Homo sapiens: one gene and its partners. The protein of the gene in region 2 purifies or fractionates together with the protein of the main gene of each other region. This does not show direct contact. Each region holds a gene or a part of one and is shown on either strand. Other genes may lie near its edges. The genes, in order: PER1, CSNK1D, FAM83H and FAM83D.

Region 1 (7,021 bases), about 74 Mb from region 2:
GAGCAGCCCCAGCCTCAGCCTCGGAAGAGTCGATGCTGCCAAAGTATTTGCTTGTGTGGCTGCTCTGGCTGCTGCCTGTGAAGTGGGGGGCAGACCAATGGGAGTCAGGCCGGCTGCATGCCCACTCCTGGGACCTCACAAGGCCTCCCTCAAAGGCCACATGTCCATCCCAGTGGCCTTAGGAAGCTCCGCCAAGACGGGGCCTGGGCTCCCGGCTCCCCAATCACTGCCCTACCCTGGGAGATGCTGGAGGCGGGGTACTCACGAGTGATGCTGGCTGAGGTGCTGCCCCCTTCATGGGAGCCTGAACCAGACCCAGAGCCCAAGCCAGAGCCCAAGGAGCCCGAGGCTGCGGAGCCTGTGCCGGAGCGCGAGTCCTCTTGCAGCAGAAGTTCGAGCAGGTCACTGGAGCCGGAAAGTGCGTCCTGATTGGAGGACTCAGTGACCTCCGCCTGGAGGAGGGGAGGGGGGCAAGGAGGGATGGAGGGGTCAGCACCTAGGCCTCCCTTCAACTGCTCTTACTGGTTGTGGGGAGAGGCACATCCAACCCCAGTGGTCTCTGCTCCCCACTTCGTGACAGTAGGGCCAGGCTGAGAGAGAAGAAAGCTGGCGAAGAGTGGGGATGTGAGGCCAGACCCTTTCCAAGTGACAGATGCTCTCTCAGAAGTTATTGAGATGTCCTCACCACCTGTCAGACAGACAGGACTGTCCCTTCAAAGAGGAGGTAGCCAATTTCTGCCTCATTCAGAAATTCAGCTGGGGACTCCCTCCACCTCCTGGAGGCTGAGACGCCAGCCTGGCAGAGACAGCAGGCAGCACAGGGTGGCAGAGGGGCGGGGCTGGGGTGGGGGCTGGCAGGCAGACGCAGGGGTCAGTGCTCACCAGTCTGGCCTCTGGCTCAGCAGCCTCCGCACTGGGAGGTGGGGGCCCGGCACTGCTCCCAGGGCCTCCTGCAACAGCAGCCCCCTCAGCACGGGGGAGCTCCTCCAGCTGCAGCAGATTGAGCTGGAGTGGAGAGCTGCATCTCGAGTTGAACAGTGGAGAGTCCGGGCGGTGAGGAGGACTCGGGGCGAGGGCGGGCAAGGATGGAGAAGGGGAGTGCGAGGCAGGAGTGGGAGGCCCTTCAGCAGGGGTCTGGAGTGCCCCATAAGGATAGCTGGATGGGGTTGGGAACAGATAGTTAGGGAGCACCAAGGCCACCATTGGGGTCACCAAAGGGGCGGGGAAAGCAGCTGGGGGCACAGATGTGGGAGCAGGGGGAAGAGGCTGGGGGCCTCCTCGAGGAGAGAACACTGGGAGAGGGTAGGGCTGGACAACCGCTGGGAAGGGGGTAGTGGCTGGTGGGGTGGGCCAGGGGGTGGAGGGTGGCACGGGTGAGGGGTGTGAGACATAGCAGGGCGCTTCAGCCCGAGGGTTCTGGTGGTGGCGTGAGCGCTTGGCTTTGGATCGGCAGTGGTGTCGGCGGCTTGGGGGTGCGGGGCCGTGGTGGCAGCCTGTGGGGAGAGACTAGGGTTAGCAAGGACCTCAACCTGGGGTTAGTACCCCTGCTACCCACACTGCCCTGACACGCTGACCAGGGAGAGGACAGGCCAAGGTCCCAGAGAGAGCTTCTCAACCCACACAGAACGGGGGACTCAGGAGGTGGGGCACCTTCAGGGAAGAATCACAGGAGCCAGGGACAAGGGGATTTATTGAGAAAGGAACAAGGCCAGGGAGAGGTTACACGAGGGGTCGAGCTGGGGGTGTGCGGAAGATGGAGGCATGCTGGCAGATGGAGGAAGCAGGGTGAGTCCATGGACACATGGACAGATGGCTCTGGTCCGCCAAACTCCTGTGGGCACTGCCAGCCTAGGCATTCCTCCTGCCCATCGAGGCCGTATTCTGCCTAGCTTGCAATGGAGTGAAGAGTGGGGCTGGAAAGCCCAGTCCTGAGTCCTGCGTCTGCCTGCAGGGGATCTCCCTCAGGCACCTGGAGGGGCTGCCTTCCACCTGCCCTTGAAGCCCAGACCCCACCCAGAGTTGGCCCAGAATCTATGCATGTCTCTTCATCAGTGACAACTGACTCCTAAGTGGGCATACTTCCTGCCCCTGCCCCCAGGCTAGGCCTGAAGTCGCTTACCTGGAGACAGCACCTCTGCCTGCCCATCCCAGTGCCATCCCCCCAGGCTGCCCTCCTCTGGCTGCAGCCCGGAACCCCATCCTAGTGGGGAGAAGCTAGCGAGGGGCCTGTCCCTAGGCAGGGCCTAGTGGTGGAAGCAACACCAGCCTGGGTCCCTGGAGCAGAAACACCTCCCTTAAGACCCACCCCCCAACAATCCAGTCCTAGACTGGGCAGAGGGCAGGCTCCAGGAGGCCCCAGGTGGCTACCTCGCTCGCCAAGGGCTGAGGGAGCTGTGGAAGAGCTGTCGAGTCCACGCAGCCTGCCCAGGTCTCGGAAGCGGCTGAGGAAGGCTTGCTCTTCCTTCTGTGTGTGCAGGGACAGCACGGCCTTGGTCAGCCCCACTGGACGGTAGGCGTCTGGGGCTGGGTCAGGGGCTACTGTGGGGCTGGGGGCTGGGCTGGGGGCTGGGCCTGGGGCTAGGCCAGGCAGGTCCTCCATCATGATGATGTCTGAGGAGAGTGAGATAGGGAAAGGTCATCAGAACCACTTCAGGGGTCAACACATCCATACCACACCCTCCCTGTCTGATAGCCTAGCCAACCCCTGGCAGCTCTGCCCCACAGCCAAGCCTGGTCTCCATGTACGTTTCTTGGTCACCTCTCTGCCAACGGCTGGCCCTGGGTCCTCCTCTCCATGCAAAGCTGGCCCAGAAGAAGAGACGATACTCAGGCCCCTCCAGTGGCCACTCCCTGCCAGGAACTCTACTGGGATGACCCCGTCACAACTCTCATTGGAAGAGAAGCCCACCCCTTGGCCTTCCCTCACACATTTTCTTGTTTCTTTTTTTTTTTTTTTTTGACATGGAGTCTCACTCTTTCTCCCAAGCTGGAGTGCAGTGGTGCGATCTCAGCTCACTGCAACCACCACCCCCTGGGTTCAAGCGATTCTCCTGTCCCAGCCTCCCGAGTAGCTGGGACTACAGGCGCGCGCCACCACGCCCGGCTAATTTTTGCATTTTTAGTAGATACAGGGTTTCACCATGTTGCCCAGGCTGATCTCGAGCTCCTGATCTCAGGTGATCCTCCTACCTCAGCCTCCCAAAATGCTGGGATTACAGGCCTGAGCCACCATGCCCAGCCCCTCATGATTTTCAAGGTCAATATCCAAAGACCCTTCAGGGATGTTCAATTTTCCTTGCCTTCAGACCCTGTGTGGTCAGCACCTCAGGGCAAACCCTCTATCCCAGACTCTGTGTTTCAACTGACAGTAACAATACGAGAAGCAGAACAGGGGAAGGGCAAAGCCGAGAAGCCTGGCAGGGAGGGGAGAGCAAGAAGCAGTAGCCCCAAGCCCCAGGTCAAGGGAGGCCTCCTTCTCTCCATCAGGCCCTAGAGGGGAGGGGAAAGGCAGGAGGGAGCTCTAGCTGGGAGACCGGTGGAGCCCAAGCACTGCCCCCCAATTCCACACCCATACCCGACTCCGGGGGCTTCTTGTCTCCCACATGGACGATGGTGGAGCTGAAGCTACACTGACTGGTGACGGACACCACACTCTCCGCCTTATTGGCCAGGGCGAGCGGGCTCAGGGTGCCTCCCACCACTGGCTCCTTCCGTGGGGTGGCCCCCTCCCCAGACAGCGCTGCTGACGGCGGATCTGTGCAGAGAGATGGTGCCAGTTACCATCCCCACCCCCACTGGGAAGTCAGGAGAGAGGATCCCAGGGAAAAGGGGAAGGGGATGGTGGTAGGGAACAGAGGGAACAGTCTGGAGACCAGGAGGCTGGGGAGGAGAGCAGGGCAGAGCAAGAGGGCCCAGAAGCAGAAGGGAAAAGACACAGGGCCACCAGGCCAGGACGGGGCAGTGGGAGCAGGGTGCATTGGATCTTTACCTTTCTTGGTCCCCACAGAGACTGGACCTGTCCTCTGCCTGTCGTCGTCAGAGGCTGAGGAGGTGGTATAGGAGGAGGAGGAGGCACATTTACGCTTAGTGGTGCTGGGGAGGTTGCAGCTCTCCAGGTACCTGGGGATGGACACAGCACAGGGCATCAGAGCAGGGCTTGGGGTGGGCAGGGTTAGAGCCCGAGGTGGAGAAGATGCCTGGCAGGCCTTACCTGAGGATGCTGTCCAGGCAGTTGATCTGCTGGTAGGAGCAGCTGGAGGCTTCTTTCCTCTCGGCCTCCTCAGGGACCAAGGCTAGTGGGGCCTGGACGGGAGCAGAACCCGCCTCCAGCTCTGGGTCTGGGGATTGGCAGGGAAGGGCCTTGGCCTTGAACGTGCCTGTAGCTGGGGCAAAGAGAGAAAGAGGAAAATAGCCTTCTCAAGCTCACATGGAAAAAAACAGCAAATGGGTTGGGGGTGAAGGTCAGGGGACCCCCCAGGTCTGTCTCTTCACCCACACATCATCATCAACTCACCAGGGAGGCGGGGCCGGGACTGAGGCCGGGCCCGAGACTCAATAAAAAGCTGCTGGCCCTGGTGCTTCACCAGATGCACATCCTTACAGATCTGCTGGAAAGTCACCTGTGGGACACAGCACCACAGTGAGCAGAACCAGGGGGTGTCGCCAGTGTCAGGGGCCAAGGGCACAATAAAACAAGAAGGTACCAGTGGGGAGGCACAGACGCCTTGATGGGAGCAGGACAAGAAGGAAAAGGCAGGAAGGAGAGGGCAAAGGAGGATCGGGCAAGACTCTGGGACTGGCAGTGCTGGTTCCAAGAAGGAGAGGGGAAAGGGCGATTAGAGGGTGAGGTAGGAGCAGGTCACTCACTGGCGCAGGAGGCCCAGGCCCCTCTGCATCACCCCCGTTGCTATCACTGGAGGACCCAGGGCTGTGGAGAGGGCCTGGGGATGTCACGGCGCCGACTCCACAGAGTCCCGTGGGGCTGGGGCTGTGGACGGGCTGCAGCAGGGAGAGGGCAGGTTAGATGGCTTGACCCGGCTTCCCACACCTTTTCTCACCTCCCAGGCTCCCTCTCCGCTACTCTCACCTGCAGCAGCAGCCGGTGGATCTGCTCTGACAGCTCCTGGATATCAGTGTCCAGGGAGGGAGCTGGGCTGGGGGCCGGGGGAGTGAACACGTCCTCATTCAGGGGGGCCCTGTAGAGTGAAGAGTGAATCCAGCCCTGGCCCGGTCCTGTCCCCCACCGCACTGCCCTATCCCCAACGCCAGCTCGGGGGCATGGCCCACTTACGTGCGTACTTTGTGGCGGCCCAACACGAAGGCTACCTTGCGGCTCCAGGGGTGCACAAAGCCAGCCCAGCTGGTGTCCATGGTGACATACTCCCCGTTGCGGGCACAGAAGCGGATAGGGGAGTGGTCAAAGGGCTGGCCCGCCAACTGCAGAACTGATGGAAGTGGGAAAGGAGGAGCGGTCAAAGGGAGGGAGAGCTGAGTAAGAGGGAGGCCATGCCACTAGAGATCCAGGAGACCAAGGCACCAAGAGACACAACCACAAGGGCAGCCACTCAAAAGCCCAGGACAGTGGGAAGGGCGAGCAGGGCGAGAGGAACTCACTCTTCTTGTGGATAGCCAGCATGAGGGGTCGGTCCTCAGGATGCAGGAACAGGAGCACTGGGGCCCCCAGGAGGTCCTGGGGCAGGTAGCCCAGCAGGGGGGCAGCCCTGAACGGGAAGGAGGCATCAGAGTGGCCGTGGCCTCAGCCCTGGCTGCCCTCGTCTCCTCTAGGTCCTATCCTCACCTTTCATCCACATCCTGGAAGAGGCAGCTGGGTGTGTGCCGCGTAGTGAAAATCCTCTTGTCAGGGGGTATCCGGGGAGCTGAGGCACAGAGAGTGTGGTCACTGGGTTTCGTCCAGAATGCCCAACTCCTCAGCCCTCCACTCTGCCTGGGCCCAGGCTGGCTGATGATCTGCCACACAGCTCTGCCCCGGGCACTATGGGCCCAAAGATGGTCTGGGCCAATCCTATGCCCTGTATCAGTAACATGACTGAGAGCAAGCAAGGCATTCTTCTCTGCCCTCCTCTAGCTTGGGCACCTTATTCAACTCTACCTCTAAGAGGAGCTCAAATCCTCATCTTTACAATAGCTTTTCTTGTTCCAAAATTCAAAGGGTGTGGTTCATGCCTCCCAAATTCATGTCTGGCCATGAGGAAATGTCCTTCCTCCCAGCCCCCACCAGGCCAGGGCCCTGACCTGCCCACCTTCGTAACCCGAATGGATGCGCTCTGCAATCAGCAGGCAGCACGGCTGTGCAGGGGCCCCATCTGAGACCCGGATCTTGGTCACATACGGGGTTAGGCGGAATGGCTGGTACCGAGGCCCTGGATCCCGGTCAGGACCTCCTCTAGCAAAGGAGAGAGGAGCATTAGGGACTTTCAACAGAGAGCCACCCACTCCTCCAACAATAAGGTCACAGCAGACAACAGCAAAGACGCTGGGGAGGGGGCAGGAGGAGGCAGAGGTAGGCCGGGCACGGTGGCTCACGCCTTTAATCCCAGCACTTTGGGAGGCCAAGGCAGGCGGATCACCTGAGGTCAGGAGTTCGAGACCAGCCTGGCCAACATGGTGAAACCCCGTCTCTACTGAAAATACAAAAATTAGCTGGGCGTGGTGGCGCATGCCTGTAATCCCAGCTACTTGGGAGGCTGAGGCAGGAGAATCGCTTGAACCTGGGAGGCGGAGGTTGCAGTGAGCCGAGATCGTGCCACCGCAGTCCAGCCTGGGTGACAGAGTGAGACTCCCTTTCAAAAAGCAAAAACAAAAACAAAAACAAAAAAAAAAGGAGGCAGAGGTCTTCTCCAGTTCCCCTCACCTACCTGATACGGCAGAAGACGGACTTCTCCTGGGTAAAGTCCCTGAGGCCTGAACCTGGGACAGACAGGAGAGGAGTGAGCACAGCTTCCTGCCCCTTCCCTAGGCTGCGAAGAATCCACTAAGGGAAAGTCTGGGTTCCCCGGCCCCT
Region 2 (7,021 bases):
AAGGGCACTGGGACGAGACTGCCTGCAAAGCCCCCCACAGGCTGCACGTTTCTCCTCATGGGATGACAGCATCATCCCCACAAGGGGTCAGAGCCAGGCCTCTCAGCTCCCCCAACAATCGAAAAAACCCCACTCGCCATGGCATCTCCCTGTGGGCTCAGAACTTCCTTAAACTTCCAAATGGGCAGCAGCTACCCCCTGCTGCTCTGTGAACATGCTCACTAACACGTGCAGAAAGAGGAGAGGGACAGGAACCATCGGAGGCCAAAGACAGGCCCCAAATGGTGACAGCTGGGGAGGAAAGCGGGGTGGGGATGAGAGCGTTTGGTCGGACGAGGAGTACACTCAGGGTCCGGACCCTGCAGCCTCCAACAGCCTGTGCAGGTGTGGTGGCGTGGCCAGCAGCCGGCAGCCGGATCTGTGCTGCACTATCCAGATGCACGGGGGTGGGGAGGTCAGATTTTAAGCCGAGACAGCAACCTATGAAAAAGCAGATTCTAACTGCCAATGCTGTGCGGCAGGGGCCTGCAAACTACAGCCCCGGGGCCAAACCCAGGTGCCACTTCTTCCTGCAAGTACAGCTCATTGGACACAGCCACGTTCACCAGGCAACACACAGACCGACACACCTGCGGCTGCAGCACCGTGCGGCCAGCACCGCCCAGACTCCTCATGCTGCCATTTACGGAAAACGCTGGCCTAGCCTGCTCTGAGGGCCGGGTGACTCTAATGCCGCAGGAGGGTCGCTCTGATTCCTCCCGAGGCAGCACAGCCCCGGCAGAGGGACTGATCTGCCCTGCCGAGTGCACCCCTCCCGGCACCTGGGCCCCGAGGCTCGGGCCTGCCTCGCCTGCCATCTCTCCGGGGCCTCCAAGTACTCCCCACGCTGATGGGCACTTGGCAAGTAAGTCAAGATGAACAGAGTGCACCCCTCCCAGCATCTGGAGACCCCGCCCCTCCCTGGCCCCTGCACGACTACTGGACAAGGCTGCCGTTTTTGTACCCTCCCAAGAGGCAGTTCTGCTCCTCCATCAGACTGCTGCCTGGAAAAGCTCCAAATTCTATTTAAAACTGACAACAAAACAGTAAGTTTTTAATGAAGGAACACAACAGTTCCACAGGAGCTTCATTTCTGACAGCGGTGTCTGAAAAGTAATTCAGCTCAGACATGGACCCAGGGCTGGGCTGCCTGTTTTAGAGGCTCCACTGCATACTCACACCGCATCAAGAAAGCCACAGGGAAAATCAGCTCATGACAGGGTCAGTCAGGCTAGACGGGTAGCACCTCACCAGGCCCCAACCCCACTCATCTCGTGGGCACCACGACCATGTGGCACAGCGAATGGGAATGCGCACCCCCAGCCCCCACCCTCTGCCCCCAGGGCATGCTCTGGGCCCTAGCTCCGCTTGGTGACAGGGAGGGAAGGGGCCTCCTGCTGTCCACACCCAGGAATTCCATGGACCCCTCTGCGTTCCCTAATGGCGTCTTACTTCTTGGCACCCCTTTCTGGCAGGCAGACACCCACTCAGTCCAGGTCCTGCCCACTACACACTTGCCCTTCACAACCAGAGACACTCCCTATATGGTACAGCCCCTCAACAAGACGGCCGCCGGCCTCTCACTGACAAGCCATCCCCCGCACACCACACTCAGCGAACGTGCTGGCAGTGCGACTTACAAATTTGAGCATGTTCCAGTCGAACACGTAGTCATAGGAGAAGCCCTGGCGATGGAACAGATTCCGGAAAAGCTGCCGCAGGTACGAGTAGTCAGGCTTGTCGTCAAAACGCAAGGAACGGCAGAAATTCAGGTATGTGGCAAATTCGGCTACAAAACAAGAAACTCAAAGCTAACTCATGAAACCCAACTGCGACTCAAGGTGTCTCTGCCAACGTCGCTGTCTACCTCCTGCTGCTGCACACTCAAGGGGAGAAGGACAGATGCAAAACACCTGTCAGATTTCTAAGACCTGAAGCCTTGAGAAAGCATCGAAAAGTATTCAAGTCACGGCCGGGTGCGGCGGCTCACGCCTGTCACCCCAGCACTCTAGGAGGCTGAGGAGGGCGGATCACGAGGTCAGGAGATCAAGACCATCCTGGCTAACACAGTGAAACCCCATCTCTACTGAAAAAAAAAAAAAAAAAGTTCTAGAGCGTGGTGGCGGGCGCCTGTAGTCCCAGCTACCGGGGAGGCTGACGCAGGAGAATGGTATGAACCCGGGAGGCGGAGCTTGCAGTGAGCCGAGATCACGCCACTGCACTCTAGCCTTGGCGACAGAGTGAGACTGTGTCTTAAAAAAAAAAAAGAAGTCATAAAGCACAATTTAGTTTCATTTGAGGTGTGTATCCTGGGGCAATCCTACAAATGCAAAGGAAATCTCCCGAGCTCCTGGAGGGGGCCAGAGAGGGCAGCCACTGCAGAGAGAGGCCCCACCACTGCCTGTCCATCCCTTTCCAGCCACTTGGGGCCCTGAGGCTCGGGCCTGCCTTGCCTGCCATCTCTCCAGGGCCTCCAAGTACTCCCCACGCTGATGGGCACTTGGCAAGTAAGTCAAGATGAACAGGAGGGCAGGCTGTTACCTCCATACACAAAAGCGCCCCGCTTTCCTGCCACCACCCCTTTGGAAGGTGAGCAACTCTTCTGACAAAACCCAGACTGAGCCGTCTCGGCACACCCGACACATATGCAACCCCTGTGAGCAGCTCCGCTGAGAAGAGGCCTCCAGAGACTTACAAGGGTAGCCTTTACACAACACTTCGATGGGGGTGGACATTTTCTTCTCGCTAATCCTTTCGTATTTCTGTCTCTTGGTGGCAGCCTTCAGCCCCTGCCAGGGGAGAGAGCCCAGGTTGAAGTACATTAGCACGTAGCCCAGAGACTCCAAGTCATCTCTTCGGGATTGTTCTGAAAAGAAAAGGGAAAGGCGTGAAGAACGGCACTTGCGTGCTCACGTCAAAGCAAAAGACCCGGCTGGCCGTTCCAGTGGAGACTAGCCTCAGACACACATGCCCAGATCACTCCAGCTGGCACTTCCAGTGGAGACGAACCTCGGACACACATGCCCAGATCACTCTCACCCAGAGCTGCCCCTCATGCATACTAAGGAAATTCCCAAACACATCACAGGTGACTCAGAAATGTCCCAGCATCCGCCTGCCCCCATACACCTGGCAGTCACGAGCCAGCCTGTCTGCCGCAAAGGTCTGATGACACGCTTGCAGCCCCAGCTCCCCGAGAGGCTGGCCTCTCCCTGGGCTGAGGCATGGACGCGCCCAAAGGCACCCCAGGTCAGTGACCCCATGCCCAGGGGCTCACCAATTCCAAGGTGCGTGTTGATGGAGGCGTACCGCGCCGTCCCCGTGAGGTTCTTGTTCTCACGATAGGGGATGTGCTGGTGGGTGCGTGCATCCCGGTACTTCTTGGCCAGCCCGAAGTCGATGATGTACACCAGGTTGCCCTTCTTCCCCAGGCCCATGAGGAAGTTGTCTGGCTTCACATCCCGGTGGATGAAGTTCTTTGAATGAATGTATTCGATGCGACTGATCTGTGAGCAGAGCAAGGGCGCGAGATGGCACCCCAGGGCAGTCTCAGGGAGGGACCGCTCAACTGTGGGACACTACATCAGTGGCTGCATTGTTCCTGCCCCTCAGCCACAGCAGGGTAGTTTAACAATTAGCGAGGGGGATGCCGAACTGACCAAATTGTTCCCCCAGGTGCCTGCAGCAACCCTCCACACTCCACCCTCCACAGGCCTAGGCGCTTTGCCTTCAGCTCCCACAAAACAGAGAGGTGAGGCGACAGAGAGGGGACAACCCGCCACTAGACATCGGTCTCTCCCAGCACTGTTCTCTGCACAGACTACACACCAGGATTAGCAGAGAAACTGCACGGAGGTGCTTAGGAATCACGTGTGTTCCTGAGAGACTGAGGAACCCACTGAATGGAAACGTGCTATGCTGGTACCGAGAAGGTGGCCTCCAAGCCAGTGAGCTGAGCCACCAGAGCCTCGAGAAGCCAGTGAGCTGAGCCACCGAAGCCTCCAGAAGCCTCGAGAAGCCAGTGAACTGAGCCGCCGGAGCCTCGAGAAGCCAGTGAGCTGAGCCGCCGGAGCCTCGAGAAGCCAGTGAGCTGAGCCGCCGGAGCCTCGAGAAGCCAGTCAGCTGAGCCGCCGGAGCCTCGTGAAGCCAGTGAGCTGAGCCGCCGGAGCCTCGAGAAGCCAGTGAGCTGAGCCGCCGGAGCCTCGAGAAGCCAGTGAGCTGAGCCGCCGGAGCCTCCAGAAGCCAGTGAGCTGAGCCGCCGGAGCCTCGAGAAGCCAGTCAGCTGAGCCGCCGGAGCCTCGAGAAGCCAGTCAGCTGAGCCGCCGGAGCCTCGTGAAGCCAGTGAGCTGAGCCGCCGGAGCCTCGAGACGCCAGTGAGCTGAGCCGTCGGAGCCTCGAGAAGCCAGTGAGCTGAGCCGCCGGAGCCTCGAGAAGCCAGTGAGCTGAGCCGCCGGAGCCTTGTGAAGCCAGTGAGCTGAGCCGCCGGAGCCTCGAGAAGCCAGTGCAGTGCGCTGAGCCGCCGGAGCCTCGAGAAGCCAGTGCAGTGCGCTGAGCCGCCGGAGCCTCGAGAAGCCAGTCAGCTGAGCCGCCGGGGCCTCGAGAAGCCAGTGCGCTGAGCCGCCGGGGCCTCGAGAAGCCAGTCAGCTGAGCCGCCGGGGCCTCGAGAAGCCAGTCAGCTGAGCCGCCGGAGCCTCGAGAAGCCAGTCAGCTGAGCCGCCGGAGCCTGGAGAAGCCAGTGCGCTGAGCCGCCGGAGCCTCGAGAAGCCAGTGAGCTGAGCCGCCGGAGCCTCCAGAAGCCAGTCAGCTGAGCCGCCGGAGCCTCGAGACGCCAGTGAGCTGAGCCGCCGGAGCCTCGAGAAGCCAGTGAGCTGAGCCGCCGGAGCCTCGAGAAGCCAGTGAGCTGAGCCGCCGGAGCCTCCAGAAGCCAGTCAGCTGAGCCGCCGGAGCCTCGAGACGCCAGTGAGCTGAGCCGCCGGAGCCTCGAGAAGCCAGTGAGCTGAGCCGCCGGAGCCTCGAGAAGCCAGTGCGGTGAGCCACCGGAGCCTCGAGAAGCCAGTCAGCTGAGCCGCCGGGGCCTCGAGAAGCCAGTCAGCTGAGCCGCCGGGGCCTCGAGAAGCCAGTGTGCTGAGCCGCCGGGGGCCTCGAGAAGCCAGTCAGCTGAGCCGCCGGGGCCTCCAGAAGCCAGTGAGCTGAGCCATCGGAGCCTCGACAAGCCAGTGAGCTGAGCCGCCGGAGCCTCCAGAAGCCAGTCAGCTGAGCCGCCGGAGCCTCGAGAAGCCAGTGAGCTGAGCCGTCGGAGCCTCGAGAAGCCAGTGAGCTGAGCCGCCGGAGCCTCGAGAAGCCAGTGAGCTGGGCCGCCGGAGCCTCGAGAAGCCAGTGAGCTGAGCCGTCGGAGCCTCCAGAAGCCAGTGAGCTGGGCCGCCGGAGCCTCGAGAAGCCAGTGAGCTGGGCCGCCGGAGCCTCGAGAAGCCAGTGAGCTGGGCCGCCGGAGCCTCGAGAAGCCAGTGAGCGGAGCCACCGGAGCCTCGAGAAGCCAGTGAGCTGAGCCACTGCAGCCTCAAGGCTGAGGCTCAGCAAATTTCCATTTCCTCTGTGAATTAATGGCCATAATAATGGCAAGAACAGCACAAGCGAGTGGCTGATTCTATCAGACAGCAAGTGTGTGCCAACTGTCAGGAAACAGTCCTTACCATTTGGTCAGCAAGCAGCAGGACGGTTTTGAGGCTGAATTTCCTGGAGCAGAAGTTGAAGAGGTCCTCCAGGCTTGGCCCCAGCAGCTCCATCACCATGACGTTGTAGTCCCCCTCTGCCCCGCACCATCTGATGGTGGGGATGCCCACTAGGCAAGGAAATCAGACACAGTGTTTCAGTCCAGGCCCTGCCTCAGCTCCACACTAAGTCTGCACTGTGCACACCAAGGGGTCATGGTGACAATCCTGAACGGGGGAGGGGTGGTGGAGGTAGAAGACCCCGGCAACGCCGCTCCTCAGGGACCCATCCTCGAGATTAGGCCCCATCTATTAGCAAATGGCCTGAGGCAGACGTTGGATGAGGGCCAAGCAGACAGGAGCTGTAAGGGGGACAAGGAGGGGATCGAAGCCCCACCTCCCCGACTCCCGTCTTCTAGGGCAGGGGGGCAGGAGACACAGAAAGCAGCCACGATGTGGGAAAGAAAAGAGCTCAGGCATAAAGGAGCAGCAGAGCCCGCCAGAAACGTCACACAGGAGATGGGAGGAGAGAAAGCAGCTACCGTGGGTTAGGTGAGAGAAGAAAATATGTTCAATTACTCCGATGTTGGTAGAAGTATTTGACTGGATAAGAGAAAAGCAAAAGCAATGAAAACTTTTTGGGGATTTACACAGTAACCCAGGATTGAAATATACAAATCAGGGAAGTGAAAATAAAGACACAATAAATCCAACAGGAAGAATTTAAAGATGGCTGCATAGTATCAGTGCTGAAGGCATAATCAACACTATAAAGGCACACGGGCCAGGTGCAGTGGCTCATGCCTGTAATCCTAGCACTTTGGGAGGCTGAAACGGGAGGACTGCTTGAGCTCAGAAGTTCGAGACCAGCCTGGATAACAAAGGGAGACCCTTGTCTCTACAAAAAATTCTGGAAATTAGGTGGGTGTGGTGGCACGCTTCTGTGGTCCCAGCTACTTGGGAGGCTGAGGCAAGAGGATCACTTGAGCCCAGGAAATGGAGGCTGCAGTGAGCCGTGATGGCACCACTGTGCTCCAGCCTGGGCCACAGAGCAAGACCCTGTCAAAAAAAAAAAAAAAAATCCATTTTAGAAAAAATGGGTGAAAGACCTGGACACTTCACCCAAGACGTTACGTATGAAAAGTCAACGACCACAAGAAGATTCTCAGAGAGATGGAAAACACATGCTGGTAAAAACATGCACAGGAATGTGCACCGCAGCCTCACGCCACAGTCAAATTCAAATGCTGCAGCAACAGGTGGGTTTCTCAAAA
Region 3 (7,235 bases), on a different chromosome or scaffold from region 2:
CAACCCAGACCCTAGGATGCCCCTAGCTGAGGGGACACTGGCAGAGGGCTGGGGCACAGGTATCCCAGCCCTGTCTCTCCTTTCTCTGGGAGGCTGAGGCAGGAGGACTGCTTGAAGCCAGGAGTTTGAAACCAGCCTGGGCAACACAGCAAGACCCCATCTCTACAAAAAATTTTAAACATTAGGCAGGCATGGTGGCGTGCACACATAGTCCCAGGCACTTGGGAAGCTGAGACAGAAGGATTGTTTGAGCCCAGGAGTTGGAGGCTGCTGTGAATTATGATTGTGACACTGCACTCCTGCCTGGGTGACAGAGTGAGACCACATCACTACAAAAAATAAAAATAAAACGAACCCCCCCCCCCAAATATTTCATGACTGTTGGCTTAAAGACAAACAATCCAGGCTGCATTCATCATTATAATATTCACTTTTTTCTTATTTTAAGACATTCACGGACCCCTGGCACTGTGCCTACTGGACAAGCTGGTGCCGCCCATGCTGCCCATGTGTCCGTCTCTGACTGCCTGGGAGACTGTGGGTAGGTCACTGCACCTCTCTGGCCTACCTCTACTGCACAACACAGCTGAGGGTCCACATGACACCACGCCTAGCCCAAGGTGAGCGCAGCAAACAGGGCTGTGACTACCCTCCTCCTGGAATGGCAACCTTAAGCCCCACACATAGTCCCGGGCCACACCTCCTCCCCATCCTCAGGGTTTCACAATTGGGCTCCCACAGCCCATTCTATGACCGCCCAGTCCTGGAACACTGATCCCTAGACTCCGTCCCTGTCTCCCAGCACCCCCTCCTTCCCTTGGCCTACCTTTGACCTCTTTCTTGTCACTGTCCCTCTCAGATAAAACCTCCCTGGGCCACAGCCCCTTGGTGCCCACAGGGCCCTGCAGGGCCTGCACTCCACATCGCCCAAATCTGGCTCTCCACTTGCTCAGAGTCCTGTCCCCACCAGCCCCCATCCAGGGCAGCAGGGACCTTTCCAGGTCCTGGGCTCGCCACCACCATCCATGCTTGGCTGCCCCACAGCCCACTCTGTTCTCCAAAGGGTCCCTGCGGGGGCCTGGCCTCTCCAGAAAGGTGTCAGATGGGGAGCGCCCAGGGCCCACGCACACAGGGTCACTGAGCTACCTGGGTACCTCTCCCTGGAAGGAGAGCCCTAGGGACTGCTCAGTCCATCCCACTGCTCCTCGGGTTGGGGAGGGAGGCAGGACACCTGTCCCCGCCTAGCACACAGGTTCCTGAATGTTGGCCCTGGCTAGGAAGGTGCCCAGAGGAGCGTGCCCCTGGGCGCTGACAGGATGGATGCCGGCCAGCTGGACTACATGGGTGCTAGCCGGAGCCACTTGGCTGAGAATGTTGGGGTCAGGAGGCAGCCGTCCTGCCTGGTGCCCCTGGGGGTGACATGGAGTTGAGACATGGGAAATACCTGGTGCCACTCAACAGCCCTAGATGCCAACCGGCTTGGGAGAAGCTGTCCCAACATTTCTTTGTTGGGGCACCGTCCTCATGGTTGACATATGGGGCTGGTTAGGGCACACCGCTCTGGTTGTGCCAGGGGCAGATCGAGGCCAACCACATGGGGGTGAGGTGTAGGCCTGTCTGGCTGGGCCGAGGAGCCCACTCACCATTGCCAGCCTGTCTGTAGGGGCGGTGTCTGACCATACAGGGCAGGGGGAACAACCCTGCTGATGTTGTTTGAGGGTACTTCCCGACACTGGGGGGACACTCTAGAAAGGACCCCCACTGTCCCTTTGGATTTCAGTGTCCAGGCTCCAGGCTGTGTGTAATGGGGGCAGGGACCATCCAGACAGTGGAAGCCCCCGTGGCCAGGAGCCCTCCCAGCAGACATGCCTCGTCCTCACAGGGTGATGCCCAGACCTCCAACTGCTTCATTCCTCACGTCGTCTCCTTTCATGGGTACGTGTCTCCTGGGCTATGGACGGGGCTGCAGCCACTCCCGAGCCCAAGATGGAGCACCCCAGTGGCCTGCATGCCCACACATTTGCCTACCAAACGTCTGCCCAAGGGAGGGAGGGCGCGGAACCCACCCATGGGCAATGACTCAGCACGAATCCACTCTTCTGCTTGCTGACCCCTGACCTCTGACTCGAAGTCAGGGCCCTCAGCTGGCCTTCAAGGACCCCATCCTCTCCACCCTGGCAGGAAGTGGGGTTCCTGAGTATCTGGAAGGAGGACCCCATGGAAGGATCTGGAGTTCCTACACAAAGTGGGGTGAACCTGTGCCAAGTTCCGATGGGCGCAGGAGGGCGCGGAGGCTCTAGGCGGCGGAAAGGTGGGGTGCGGAGGACGGGGCTCACAGACCGGAAGTCGCTCAGTGATAACTTGCGGAGTGGGCACCCCAGCCCCCAACGGGGTCAGTGCACCCTACGAGCTCGCGGCTGCGGCCGCTGGGTGCCCTATCCGCCCACCCCAGCCCAGGAACGTGGGCGCGAGGGGCAGCACTCCCATCACTCGCCCTGCTCGCCACGCGGGGATCCAGGCCGCACCCTGGCCACCCCAGTCCACGGCGGCCCGGGCGGATGTCCCCAGGGAAGGGTCCAGGCCGTGCCCAGCACCCAGACTCCAGCTAGGCCGCGAGGGCGGGAGCGAGTCGGGACGGCCGGGCAGGCTCGACCCGGATCCCGGGCCCCTTCCCCCTCGGCTCTTTTCGGGCCGGCGTCGTGCGGGGGCGCTCGCGTCCATATCCGCACAGCGGCGCCCCCTGTCCGAGCAGCCCCGCCACCCCGGCCCCGCGCACGCGGCCGCGCTCCACTCCCACCGCCCCTCTCTGGGTCGCGCGGCCCCGGCCCAGGTGTGGGCGCAAGGGTAGCCCAAGTGGGACCGCGCCAAGGGGCGCCCGCCCCCCGCCTCGCCCCGCCCCGCTCGGGCCGGGGGAGGGGGGCCCTACCTGGCCAGGTGCGCGGGGTCTCGGCACAGGGGCAGCAGGAGCCGACCGCCGCCCAGCGGCCTCGCGGTCCGGTCGGTCCGGCAGCCACTCCCTGCCGCGGCCCGCCCGGCCTGATTCACGCGCCCGCCCCCGCCCCGCCCGTCGCTCCTGCCTCCTGCCTGCCCGGGCAGCACCTGGGGGCGGGGCAGCCCCACCCGCGGCGCGCCCGCATTCCTGCGCCCCGCGCCCGCCGCCAGCCCCAGCCCGCGCCCCCGGCCCGCGCCCCGACCCGCCCGTGCCCTGCGGCCGCGCGCCCGGAGACCCCGGCCCAGCGCCGCCGGAGACCGTGAGGCCCGCACTTCAAAGACCCCGACCCCCGGGAGCCCAACTGTTGACCCAAGGCTCAAAGTTCCCAGCCTGACCCCTGACCCTCGCCCCGGAAGTCGGGGTGACTCGGAAGTTCCGGCTCAGTCGCTAGGAAACGAGCGAGCCCGACGCCAGGGGCGGAGCTCTGGCCTCCTCGCCGAGTTGGGGGAGGCAGGTGCGACAGGTGAGGACGGTGGGGCGGCGTCGAGCCCCGGGCGGGGCCGGGTCTGGGAGCCCCGAGAGCACAGGGGATCCCCTCACCACACACCGGTCTCCCACCGCACCAGCGCCCCACACGTAGACGAGGACCCCGCCCACACAGAGGACCCCCAGACCCCAACCCCCACCACACACACTGATGCCCACAAGTACCTGGGGTCCCCCATCTTTCTCCCTCACCCCCTCACACCGATGCCCACACTTGTAGGGGACTCTGCCGCAGTGACCCCCCCATGCACATGCGGACCCCGAATGACCTGTGCCTCATGTACACCAACCCCCAAGCACAGGAGACTCCTCAGGAAGACAGAAGCCACAAGCACACCGAGTCCTGCCCATGCCAGTCACCCACGAACACGCTGACATCCGCACACCTAGGGAACCCCACCTGCATATGAGATTTCTCAGACACCAACCCCACACACAAACAGGGGATGCCATATTCACACTGACTCTGAGAGCACAGGGGACCTCCCTCACATACGGAACCCTGTGTACACACAGGGACTCTGCAAAAACCAAGCCCCAACGGACAAGGGACCCAGTGTGCACACCAAGCCTCATACCAGACGCCCCCCCATGTACACAGCAACCCCCACACACCACCCCGAGCTGCCCCTGGGTGCTCCAGTCCCCCAGGTCCCCCTCAGGCCCTCACTTAGGGCCCCTCCCCCTCTTAGGCCCTGCCCTACACTGGATCATCTGTCCAAACCACCACCCCTCGCCCCTGCCACTCCCACCCCAAGGACTGGCCCTGCCTCAACCCTTTCTGATGGTCATCAGTCGCCTTTCTCTTTGTTCCTCTTGCCATGTGATCCTATTTTCTGTTTTCAGGGTCAGTCCCAGTTTCATTTGTTCTTTCCCCAAACACTCAGTGCCACCCCACTGGTACCAGCATGCTGGAAACATGGGTGGGGGGTCAGACCAGTGCCCAGGCAACTGTGCTGCAGCGGGTGAGGGGCATGGGGCACCGGGGAGGACCCGGACAGGCTGGGGCAGGCAGGAGGAGCCTCCCAGGGAAATGAACTTGGGGGTCAGCTGTGTGGACTAGGGAGAGGGGTGTTGCTCCAGGGCCTGACACCACCATCTGCCAGAGCCGGGACCACATAAGGTCTGAGGGTGTGGAGGGGTGAGTGCCTTGGGTGGGCTGGGGAGCAGGCTCAGGGGTGGGCTGGCTTCCCAGGGCAGTGGAGAGGCATGGAGGCTTCAGCAGAGAGGGCCATGCTCATGATTACGGTGAGAACAAAGACCGGCCCACTGGCAACCCAGCAGCTTGGGGCAGGGAGAAGAGTGCTAGACTCCAGATCCTGCGCCCGGCAGGATGGGCTGAGCCTGGGGCGGAGGGGCAGGCAAGCCACGGCCAGGGGGACGGGAGGTGGCCAAGTGCTCTTGCCAGGCATCCCGGCTCAAGCTTCTGGGCACACACCCGGGGCGGGCAGGCAGACAGGACACCAGCTGGGAAGCCTCAGGGGAGCCCATGTTCCTGCTGTCATCCACTCAGGCGCCCATGGTGTGCCCTGTTCCCCACTGCCACTGCCCCTGCCCTCTGCCACTCTGAGCACCCTCTCCCTGGTCCTTCCCTACCCACCCCCCAGGAGAATGGACAGTAAGAAGGGGAGACCCAAAGCTGCAGCTGGGAAGTGGCAGACGCTCCACCCTGGGCCCAAGACAAGAGCTGCTGCTGGTAAGTGCACCCTCTGACCTCCAGAGCACTGTCACCCAGACACTGACCTGTGAGACCTTCTATGTAGCCACCGAGAGACACCCCCTCTGAGGAGAGCCCTTCTTCCAAGAGTGGCTTTTAGGGGACCTCTGAGTTGGGATTAGGTGTGATTGACTGAGGGTTCAGAGCCCATTCATTCATCTCAGACCTTGAGCCTGAATCTATTTTTTTTTTTTTTTTTGAGACGGAGTCTCGCTCTTGTCACCCAGTCGAGTGCAATGGCGCAATCCCTCCTCACTGCAACCTCCGCCTCCTGGGTCCAAGTGAGTCTTGTGCTTCAGCCTCCCGAGTAGCTGGGATTATGGACGTGCGCCACCACGCCCTGCTGATTTTTGTATTTTTGTTTTAGTAGAGACGGGGTTTCGCCACATTGACCAGGCTGGTCTTGAATTCCTGACCTCAGGTGATCCGCCCGCCTCGGCCTCTCAAAGTGCTGGGATTACAGGCTTGAGCCACATGCCCGGCCAAGCCTGAATCTTATACCCCTGGGGTTGGGGTGGGGGCCTAGGGGTAGCACTCAGAGAAGCCCAGCTTTGGAACACATGGAGGTGGGAAGGGGGCAGGAGCCAGTGGGAGGCGCCTAGATGGCCAAAAATGGGTTTTGAAACAGGAGGGTTTGAGTCCAAGTTGGGGATTCTCAGTCTAAGCATGTGTTCTCTGACTCTCTGCTCCATCTGGGCCATCCTGTGCTGCCCTCTGCCTGCGGCTTTGCTCCCAGTCACCTTCTCCATAGTCACTTCCAGGTTGGATGGTGACAGCTCACCTGGGCTGGGTTTTCCTGTGGGTCAGGAAGGAGACTTCCCCCAGTACCCTCCCCCACCCCAGCCCCGCCTTCACTGTTGTCACTCCCTTGCTCCAGCTCCCATTTATTCTCTATGCTGGCTGTGAACACATTCCAGGTTGCAAATCTGGGGTCCTTCAGCACCCAGGCCTGCACTGGGGTCTGTGCTTGCTAAGAGAGCACCCCATCCTGCTCCCCAGACTGCCCCTCTGCTTAGAGTGGGCCTGGCCTAACACCCCTGGTTGCCAGAGAGCTCCCAGATTCACAGGAGCAGGTGGGATGATGGTGACCGCTCCTCCACGCCAGGCTGGGGTTAGATCCTAGTTCCCCAAAATAGCCCCAGCTGCGTCTGAGGCCAGCCGCCCTCCTGGAATGAGGATAATGGGCACAGGTGCCGCATGCTGCTTCCGCAATCTCTAGCCCTGAGTACACTGCACTCCAATAAACGGGGGGCAGGGCAGGTGGACCAGCAAGGCAGCCAGGAAACTGGGTTGCAGGGGTGGGGGCTGTGCTCTTCAGTTCTGCTACCTACTGACTGCACACCCAGGCCTTCGCCCTGCACCGCAGCCCATACACTGCCCTGGACGGCTCTGGCCCAGCATGCCTGGGTCTGCTGCAGGGACACCTCTGTCCCTGAACAAGTATCTGCCCTCAGTGCCCATTTCCACCAAGCATTGGGCCAGCCTGGGCAGGCTTGCTGTCCCTTGGTCTTGCAGTGCCCTGTGTGGCGGGCACCGGCTTCACTTGGCAGATGTGAAGATGGGCCCACAGATACCCTGCATCCAGCCTGGCTTCCTGGGCCTCCACAGGCATCCCTAGGTTGCTGCAGTGGCCACCGCACCAACACAACAGTCCGGGACCCCTCCCGCCACCCCATCCAGGCCTTACCTGGCCTTGGGTCTGCAGTGCTTCGAAGCCCTCACTCCGGAGCTGCTCCAGGGCCACGGCCAGCTGCAGCCCCTCCACGTGTACCCAGGCCTGCTCCTCCTGTAGCTGCTGCAGCCACAGCTGCTCCTCCTGTAGCTGCTGCAGCCATAGCTGCTCCTCCCGCCACAGCTGCATCTGCAGCTGGACCTGCCGCCACCGGTCCTCCAGCAGCAGCTGCTCCTGGGCCAGGCACAGCTGGACCTCATGGAGCCTCAGCAGTTCGGGGCCCAGGGCCGGCATGGGGTCCCCTGCTCCACAGCCTTCCATGTGCCCAGCAAGGACCAGCACCAGCTCAGACCCCGGAGCAGTGGCCG
Region 4 (6,831 bases), on a different chromosome or scaffold from region 2:
CCAGCTCTGAGGTCACTGCCACTCCGGAGACTTTCTTTCTTTAGCCCTTTCCGCAGTACCTGCAGCAAACTCCTCACTGTTTCCCATCAGCACACTGTCCACTCTCAAGTGTTGGCAAGGATGATGCCTTCCCCTGTGGCCCCAGCCATGGTAGTGTCTGATACACAGCAGGCAATGAGTAAGCAAATAATTTGGCATCTATCGGACACACTGAAAATACTCATTGGATTTTTTTTTTTTTTTTTTTCCGAGAGGGAGTCTTGCTCTGTCGCCCAGAGCTGGAGTCCAGTGGTGTGATCTCAGCTCACTACAACCTCCACCTCCCAGGTTCAAGCAATTCTCCTGCCTCAGCCTCCCAAGTAGCTGGGATTACAGGCACGCACCACCACGTCCAGCTAATTTTTGTATTTTTAGTAGAGACGGGGTTTCACGATGTTGGCCAGGCTGGTCTCGAACTCCTGACCTCGTGATCTGCCTGCCTCAGCCTCCCAAAGTGCTGGGATTACAGGCTTGAGCCACTGTGCCCAGCCAATACTCATTGGATTTAAAGGTAATGTACCACCTTTCTCAGTTAAAACTGCCCAGGTTCCAAATACAGCATCTCGGAGGGAACTGTGGGTAGCTAGACTAGGGCAGCAGGTTCTATCTGGAAATGTCAGTATTACAAAATGCCCGTGAGATGAGGGAGAGTCTGAGCTCCTGGCTCCATCCCCTCCTCACGCCAGCACGTGAGTTTAATAGTTTCCCTCTGGCCTCTAGTTCCAGTGCCCTTTTGCTATCACTAAAATTTGGGGCTGGGCAAAAGACTAGAACAATCCACAGCTCTCACTATACAGACCAGTTCTTTACATTTTTCAGGTTCCAAGTGCTCAAGTTCTACTGGACATGAGCTTTGGGGATGCATACCTACACAAGTCTGCCTTTTCCATCTTTTTAATCTTTTCACTGAACCCGCAAGGAAAATGTCTGCTGCATCAAAAAACCCTCAGTCCACCCAAAGCACCTCAGGGCTGGTAAGAGCCTAGCTGCAGCCCACAACCACTCCCTCAAAGGCAAGGCACTAGGTCACTGTATCCACTACCACTGAAACCCCACCAGTCAGGGAAAGAACATTAAGAACATTGGTGAGAGTCGGGGCTTGGACATGTCAACCTGACAATGCACTGGTATCTTCACCCACACTCAGACACACTCAGGTACCAGCCCTAACAAGTCTTAACATGGCTGGGGCTTTATCTGCCATGTCCCTGGCACAGGCAGATAGCCAGGGAGCTGGGCACTGCCAGTCAGCAAGCAACCTGACCATGGCTCCAGACCAAGGTGTCTGCCACGACACTCTATGTGCCACACCCACCTGCAGGCTGCCTTCTTCCTCCTTGATCCCCAGCACCCTGCTGCAGCTTTATCGAGGCTGGCAAGCAGACAAGACCTCCATTGCACCCATGACCATGCCATACTAAGAGTCAGACAGTAGGACCAAAACCCACTATGAATACAGAAGCCGATCTAATGCAAATGTATCTGCATTTTAGGAGACCACTGCAATCTGGCACAGACCCAGCCTATGGAAAACAAACCCCTTGCCCCAGTTTCCCCTCCAGTCTCTGGCAGTAGAAAAAGCGGCAGGGGGCCGGGTGCGGTGGCTCACGCCTGTAATCCTAGCACTTTGGGAGGCCGAGGCGGGTGGATCACCTGAGGTCAGGAGTTCGAGACCAGCTTGGCCAACATGGAGAAACCCCGTCTCTACTAAAAATACAAAAATTAGCCGGGCGTGGTGGCGGGCACCGGTAATCCCAGCTACTTGGGAGGCTGAGGCAGGAGAGTCACTTGAACCCGGGGGACGGAGGTTGCAGTGAACTGAGATCCCACCACTTCACTCCAGCCTGGGCAAAAGAGAATCTGTCTCAAAAAAAAAAAAAAAAAAAAAAGACAAGAAAGAAAAAGCGGCAGGGCTCTCACTTTGCCACTCTCGTGTTTATCTGCTTTTTACAGCAAAAGATGCATGAAAGTAATTAGCAATAATAATTGCTTCCTAATGCCCCGTAGTTGTCTCTGGAGACCATCTTTCTGGAACTTTCCCTGCGTAAGTTCTTTGGTAATGAGTCTCCTAAGAAGCTCCTGAAAGTGGGATCTAGCGTTGGCTGACAGACAGGGAAATAGGCAATTTTCCAAGTTTGATTTTAACTGAAATTTGGAACTCAGAGTACTTCTGGTCCCTCCTTCAGGGATATGAACGTTAGGAGATGGAACCCGGGCACAATTCGCATCCTTGGGAACCGAGGCTTTCCCACTATCCCCTGCCACGAGGAGCGGCCCGGGGGATCCGGGGGAGACACGCAGAGTGGGGTGTGAGTCGGAGACCCTGGGACCACCTAGCCCGCGCGCGCTTCCGGTAGGGCGCAGAGGAGGTAGTGGCCCCGGCCCGTACTCCCAGCAGGCCTCAATTTCCCATTCTTGAAGGGGGTCTCCCGTGCGACCCAGGGCCCTGGAGGGCCGCTCACCTCTCGCGCCGAGCGGAGCTGCTGGCGCAGAGCGTCCTTGCAGCCGTAGGGGCCACCTTCGCCAGCGCCGCGGGGCTGGAAGTGCGTCTCGACACGCGTGGCGCCGCGGTAGGCGCCCTGGTAGAAGGCGGGCCAGCCAAGCTCCAACAGCGGTGGCTCCAGGTCCGACTGCTCGGGGAAGTAGGTGCCCGAAGAGCAGTCGTGCGAGGAGCCGAACGAGTCCTCGGCCGCCGCCGCCGCCGCCGCGCCCTCCTCTCCCGGCCTCTCCGCCGCGCGCAGAATGGCGTGCACCTCATCGGGGTTCAGGAAACGAGCCAGGCGCTCGCGTCGCAGGAAGGCCGCGAAGGCTTCGGGGCCGCCCGCCACCAGCTCCTCCAGAGCCAGGCGCCGTGACTCGCTGAACAGCTCGGTCGGGTTGGGCGGCCCGCACGGCGACAGGCAGGCGGCGGGCACCTCGTCCAGGCCCTCGGACAGCAGAGCCATGGCGGCGCTCGGACTCGACAGCCCTCGGACAAAAACCGGCGTGCAGTCCCGCTTTATAGGCAACCTTTGAATCAAACAGGCCCGCGCCATTGGCCGCACCTCCCCGCCTCGGCTCTCCCATTGGCTGCTTTCCTTCCAATAGCGGAGCGAGGCGGGGCGCAAGCCTCTACGGCTCCGCCCCCTGATGCGTTATTGGCTGCGATGCTGGGCTTGCTAAGAGGAATTTAAACTTGCAGGGGCGAGGCGGGCCGCAGAGCAGGGACAGAGCGGGGAGAGCCGAGCTCCTGGCCATCCCAGCGCGCCCCCTGCCGGTCGCCCCGCTGCGCGGCCGTGCAAGGCCAGGGACAGTCAGGCCTAGACAACGAGGAGAGGCAGGTGCCGACTCCCGGAGACTCTGGCCACGCTGCTCCTAGGCTCTCAGTGCTTTGGCATGGCCAACCATATCGCCTTTATCACCTGCCTTTAACCATGTATTCATTCATTCAAAGAATACCGGCTCATCGTATTAGGACTGCTCCTTTGATTACACCCTCGGGTAGTCTTCTCTCATTTCATCGATTTTTGCCTTGTAAAACCCCAACCAACCGTGGTTATACCCTACTTTCCACCTGCACCCCGGCAGCCCTACAGGGCTGAAGAAAAAACAAAAAGAGCGTAACCATGCTTACTGACTGGTCATGTTTTAAATTCATAATCCGTAAGACTGCCTGCTAGGAGGCCGGGCGCGGTGGCTCACGCCTGTAATCCCAGCACTTTAGGAGGCCGAGGAGGGCGGATCACCTAAGGTCAGGCGTTTGAGACTAGCCTGACCAACACGGTGAAACCCCGTCTCTACTAAAAATACAAAAATTAGCCAGGTGTCTTGGTGTACGCCTGTAATCCCAGATACTCGGGAGGCTGAGGCAGGAGAATCACTTGAACGCGGGAGGCGGATGTTGCAGTGAGTCGAGATAGCACCACTGCACTCCAGCCTGGGCGACAAGATCGAAACTCCATCTAAAAACAAAACAAAACAAAACAAAAGCAAACAAACAAAAAAACTGCCTGGTAGGCCGCATTTCCCTCATTCTCTCTACCTTTTCCTCTCTGACAGCTTGTCTTCCATGTCAGCAAGAACACAGAAACAGTAAGAAGGGAACGTCCACGTGCGGCCATCTAGTCTACCTTCCTGTCTGCATCTCTGCCCGTATACTGGGCATTGATGAACTGTGCCTGTGCCCATCCAACCCCAACCCCTCTGCCTGGGCATTTCCAGCCCCTCTACTACTCACCAGCATCGCTCCAGCAATCTTCTTCTTTCTCCTGGAACATCAGCTTCCCTCTTTACCGATTCATTTCTATCAGCCTACAAGCATGCTGAAATATTTTTCATCTTAAAACAACCCTCTCTTGACCCTACATTCCTCTAAAGCTCCCCATCTCACTTCTTATTTTTGCAGCATAGAATCTCAGATGTGGCTGGCCATGGTGACTTACACCTGTAATCCCAGCACTGTGGGAGGCCAAGGGAAGAGGATCACTTGAGCCCAGGAGTTTGAGACCAGCCTGGGCAGCATAGTGAGACCCTGTCTTTACAAAAAAATACAAAAGTTAGCTGGGCATGGTGGTGCGCCTAACTTTTAGTGCATGGCAGTGCTCATGATGGTCCCAGCCAGTGGGAAGGCTGAGGCAAGAGATCACTTGAGCCCAGGAGTTTGCAGCTGTAGTGAACTATGATCACACCACTGCACCCCAGCCTGGGTGACAGAGTAAGACCCTGTCTCAGAAAAAGAAAGAAAGAAAAGAAAAGAAAAGAAACCCTCAAACCAGTTGTCTATACTTGCTGTCTCCAGTTCCCTTCCAGCCCTCTTCAATCAGGCTAAAACCCCCACTGCTTTACCAAAACCTCTTGTCAGGTTCATCATGAGTTCCACAGAGCTAAATCCAACAGTCAATTTTCAGTCGTCATCTTTTTTATGTAAATGAAAAGTGGGTCATAAATGTGAGATGTTACCATTATTATTTAGCAACCAATAACCTTTTTAAATGGATGAATGCCTGCCGCTGTTGAGACGCCTCTCCCTCTCTACCTCTCCTCTCCCCATCCCCATCCCTTTGTGAAGTTTCTCAAGAATAAGTGTGGGGACTTCCATGTGTCCCTGCGCTGGTATCCAGGGTCCGGGAGGCTGCAAGAGAGCACCTTCTTTTTTTTTTTTTTTTTTTTTTTTTTGAGACGGAGTCTTGCCCTGTCACCCAGGCTGGAGTGCAATGGCGTGATCTCGGCTCACTGCAACCTCCGCCTCCAGGGTTCAAACGATTATCCTGCCTCAGCCTCCTGAGTAGCTGGGATTACAGGCTCATGCCACCACACCTGGCCAATTTTCTGCATCTTTAGTAGAGATGGGGTTTCATCACGTTGGCCAGGCTGGTCTCGAACTCCTGACCTTGTGATCCGACACCCTTTTCATCCTCTTTCAAGAAAAACACCAACAAAGTTCTGTGTGGGACAAGGACCAAGGACTGTGGTCTGAGGCTGTGCAACCACATAGCTTCTCTATGCCTTTAATGCTCGAGGTAAAAAATGAGAATGGCCGGGGCCTTAGCTGCTGTATTGCTGTCATAAGGTGAAGTACTTTATAGTATCGTACTTCCCCACAATAAGCACACGAGGGGAAAGAGTGGAATGGGGCAGGGGGAAGAGGACAGGACATGTCAGTTCACTCCAAGAATGGGACAGAGGAGAGGGGCACCCTTGTTACATATAAATGTCATGAGAGGCGGGGCGTGGTGGTTCACGCCTATAATCCCAGCACTTCGGGAGCTCAAGGCGGGAGGATCACTTGAGGTCAGGAGTTGGAGACCAGCCTGGCCAACATGGTGAAACTCTATCTCCACTAAAAATACAAAAAATTAGCTGGACATCACGGCGAGCGCCTGTAATCTCAGCTACTTGGGAAGCTGAGGCAGGAGAATTGCTGGAACCCGGGAGGCAGAGGTTGCAGTGAGCTGAGATCACGCCACTGCACTCCAGACTGGGTGAAAGAGTGAGGCTCCATCTTAAAAAAATAAAAATAAATAAATAAATATCAGGAAAAACTTTGAAAATGTATGGAATAAATATATGCTACTATACGGCCTCATGTTAATTTCAAAGAGATTATTTGACAGAATGAAGGTCATTCCCAACCACCCACCTTTTCTTGAATTCATCAGTTTTCACCATCTCCTAGTCTGGGGAGACATCTGCTCCAGGTCTGAGCCCCCAGAGCTCCCTCTATTTCAGGGGTCTCATGGGAAAGCCCTCTGTGGGAAAGGGGTGGGGTAAGGGGGAAGAGACTAGGAGCTCTCACCCACCCTCTATTCCAGGAACCTCCTCTTTGTGAATTCAAGTCAGCACTGTTCAAGTGAGCTCACAGCAATAATCACTCACACTAGCAGGTGTTATTAAAAGGAATTTAATAATTTTAATTAAAAACTCTTAACAGCGAATTCTGTCACAGGCCTTGGCAGCTGGAAGCAACTCCAGGGACATGTGCCCCCTTTGGGATGTGGCTGAGCCACAGTTTTGGACCCAAGGCCCACCGGTGCCGCGTGGCAAGGGGCTACGTGGAAGTTACCTCAGTACGATATCAAAGATCTGCGAAGATTTTTTTTAAAAAAGTTTTAAATATATTAGACTCTCTTGATTGCCATTTTTACACAAAGCTGCTGATACAGTATACAGAGTTTTAATTTTTTTTCACATAAAATACATTTTTTTAAGTGTTCTCTGTACACCAGTGGCTTCTGGTCTGGTGAATTATTGCGGAGGGCTGGGGGTCTGCAGACTTTTCCTGGGTGTGCAGAGCCAGGCCCCGCACGGTGGCAC

What was found.
Region 1: the proteins of CSNK1D (region 2) and PER1 purify together in Homo sapiens (affinity purification with mass spectrometry; 5 studies listed by BioGRID and IntAct, with this or other methods). This does not show direct contact.
Region 3: the proteins of CSNK1D (region 2) and FAM83H purify together in Homo sapiens (co-immunoprecipitation; 6 studies listed by BioGRID and IntAct, with this or other methods). This does not show direct contact.
Region 4: the proteins of CSNK1D (region 2) and FAM83D purify together in Homo sapiens (affinity purification with mass spectrometry; 5 studies listed by BioGRID and IntAct, with this or other methods). This does not show direct contact.

The regions. Positions count from the first base shown.
Region 1 is NC_000017.11:8,142,384-8,149,404, forward strand, and holds part of PER1 (period circadian protein homolog 1), read right to left. Parts: intron 6,928-7,021; coding exon 6,876-6,927; intron 6,404-6,875; coding exon 6,261-6,403; intron 5,877-6,260; coding exon 5,798-5,876; intron 5,721-5,797; coding exon 5,614-5,720; intron 5,445-5,613; coding exon 5,291-5,444; intron 5,196-5,290; coding exon 5,087-5,195; intron 4,999-5,086; coding exon 4,867-4,998; intron 4,620-4,866; coding exon 4,514-4,619; intron 4,383-4,513; coding exon 4,211-4,382; intron 4,120-4,210; coding exon 3,989-4,119; intron 3,755-3,988; coding exon 3,575-3,754; intron 2,689-3,574; exon of another isoform or gene 2,611-2,688; coding exon 2,368-2,610; intron 1,494-2,367; coding exon 883-1,493; intron 453-882; coding exon 266-452; intron 76-265; coding exon 1-75. UniProt on the Homo sapiens protein: Transcriptional repressor which forms a core component of the circadian clock.
Region 2 is NC_000017.11:82,249,700-82,256,720, forward strand, and holds part of CSNK1D (casein kinase I isoform delta), read right to left. Parts: intron 5,879-7,021; coding exon 5,730-5,878; intron 3,546-5,729; coding exon 3,317-3,545; intron 2,906-3,316; coding exon 2,735-2,905; intron 1,829-2,734; coding exon 1,680-1,828; intron 481-1,679; exon of another isoform or gene 1-480. UniProt on the Homo sapiens protein: Essential serine/threonine-protein kinase that regulates diverse cellular growth and survival processes including Wnt signaling, DNA repair and circadian rhythms. It can phosphorylate a large number of proteins.
Region 3 is NC_000008.11:143,730,765-143,737,999, forward strand, and holds the start of FAM83H (protein FAM83H), read right to left. Parts: upstream 3,016-7,235; 5' UTR 2,927-3,015; intron 2,390-2,926; exon of another isoform or gene 2,319-2,389; intron 1-2,318. Other genes in the region: IQANK1 (IQ motif and ankyrin repeat domain-containing protein 1), read left to right, coding at 5,090-5,174. UniProt on the Homo sapiens protein: May play a major role in the structural organization and calcification of developing enamel. May play a role in keratin cytoskeleton disassembly by recruiting CSNK1A1 to keratin filaments. Thereby, it may regulate epithelial cell migration.
Region 4 is NC_000020.11:38,922,596-38,929,426, reverse strand, and holds the start of FAM83D (protein FAM83D), read right to left. Parts: upstream 3,011-6,831; 5' UTR 2,985-3,010; coding exon 2,502-2,984; intron 1-2,501.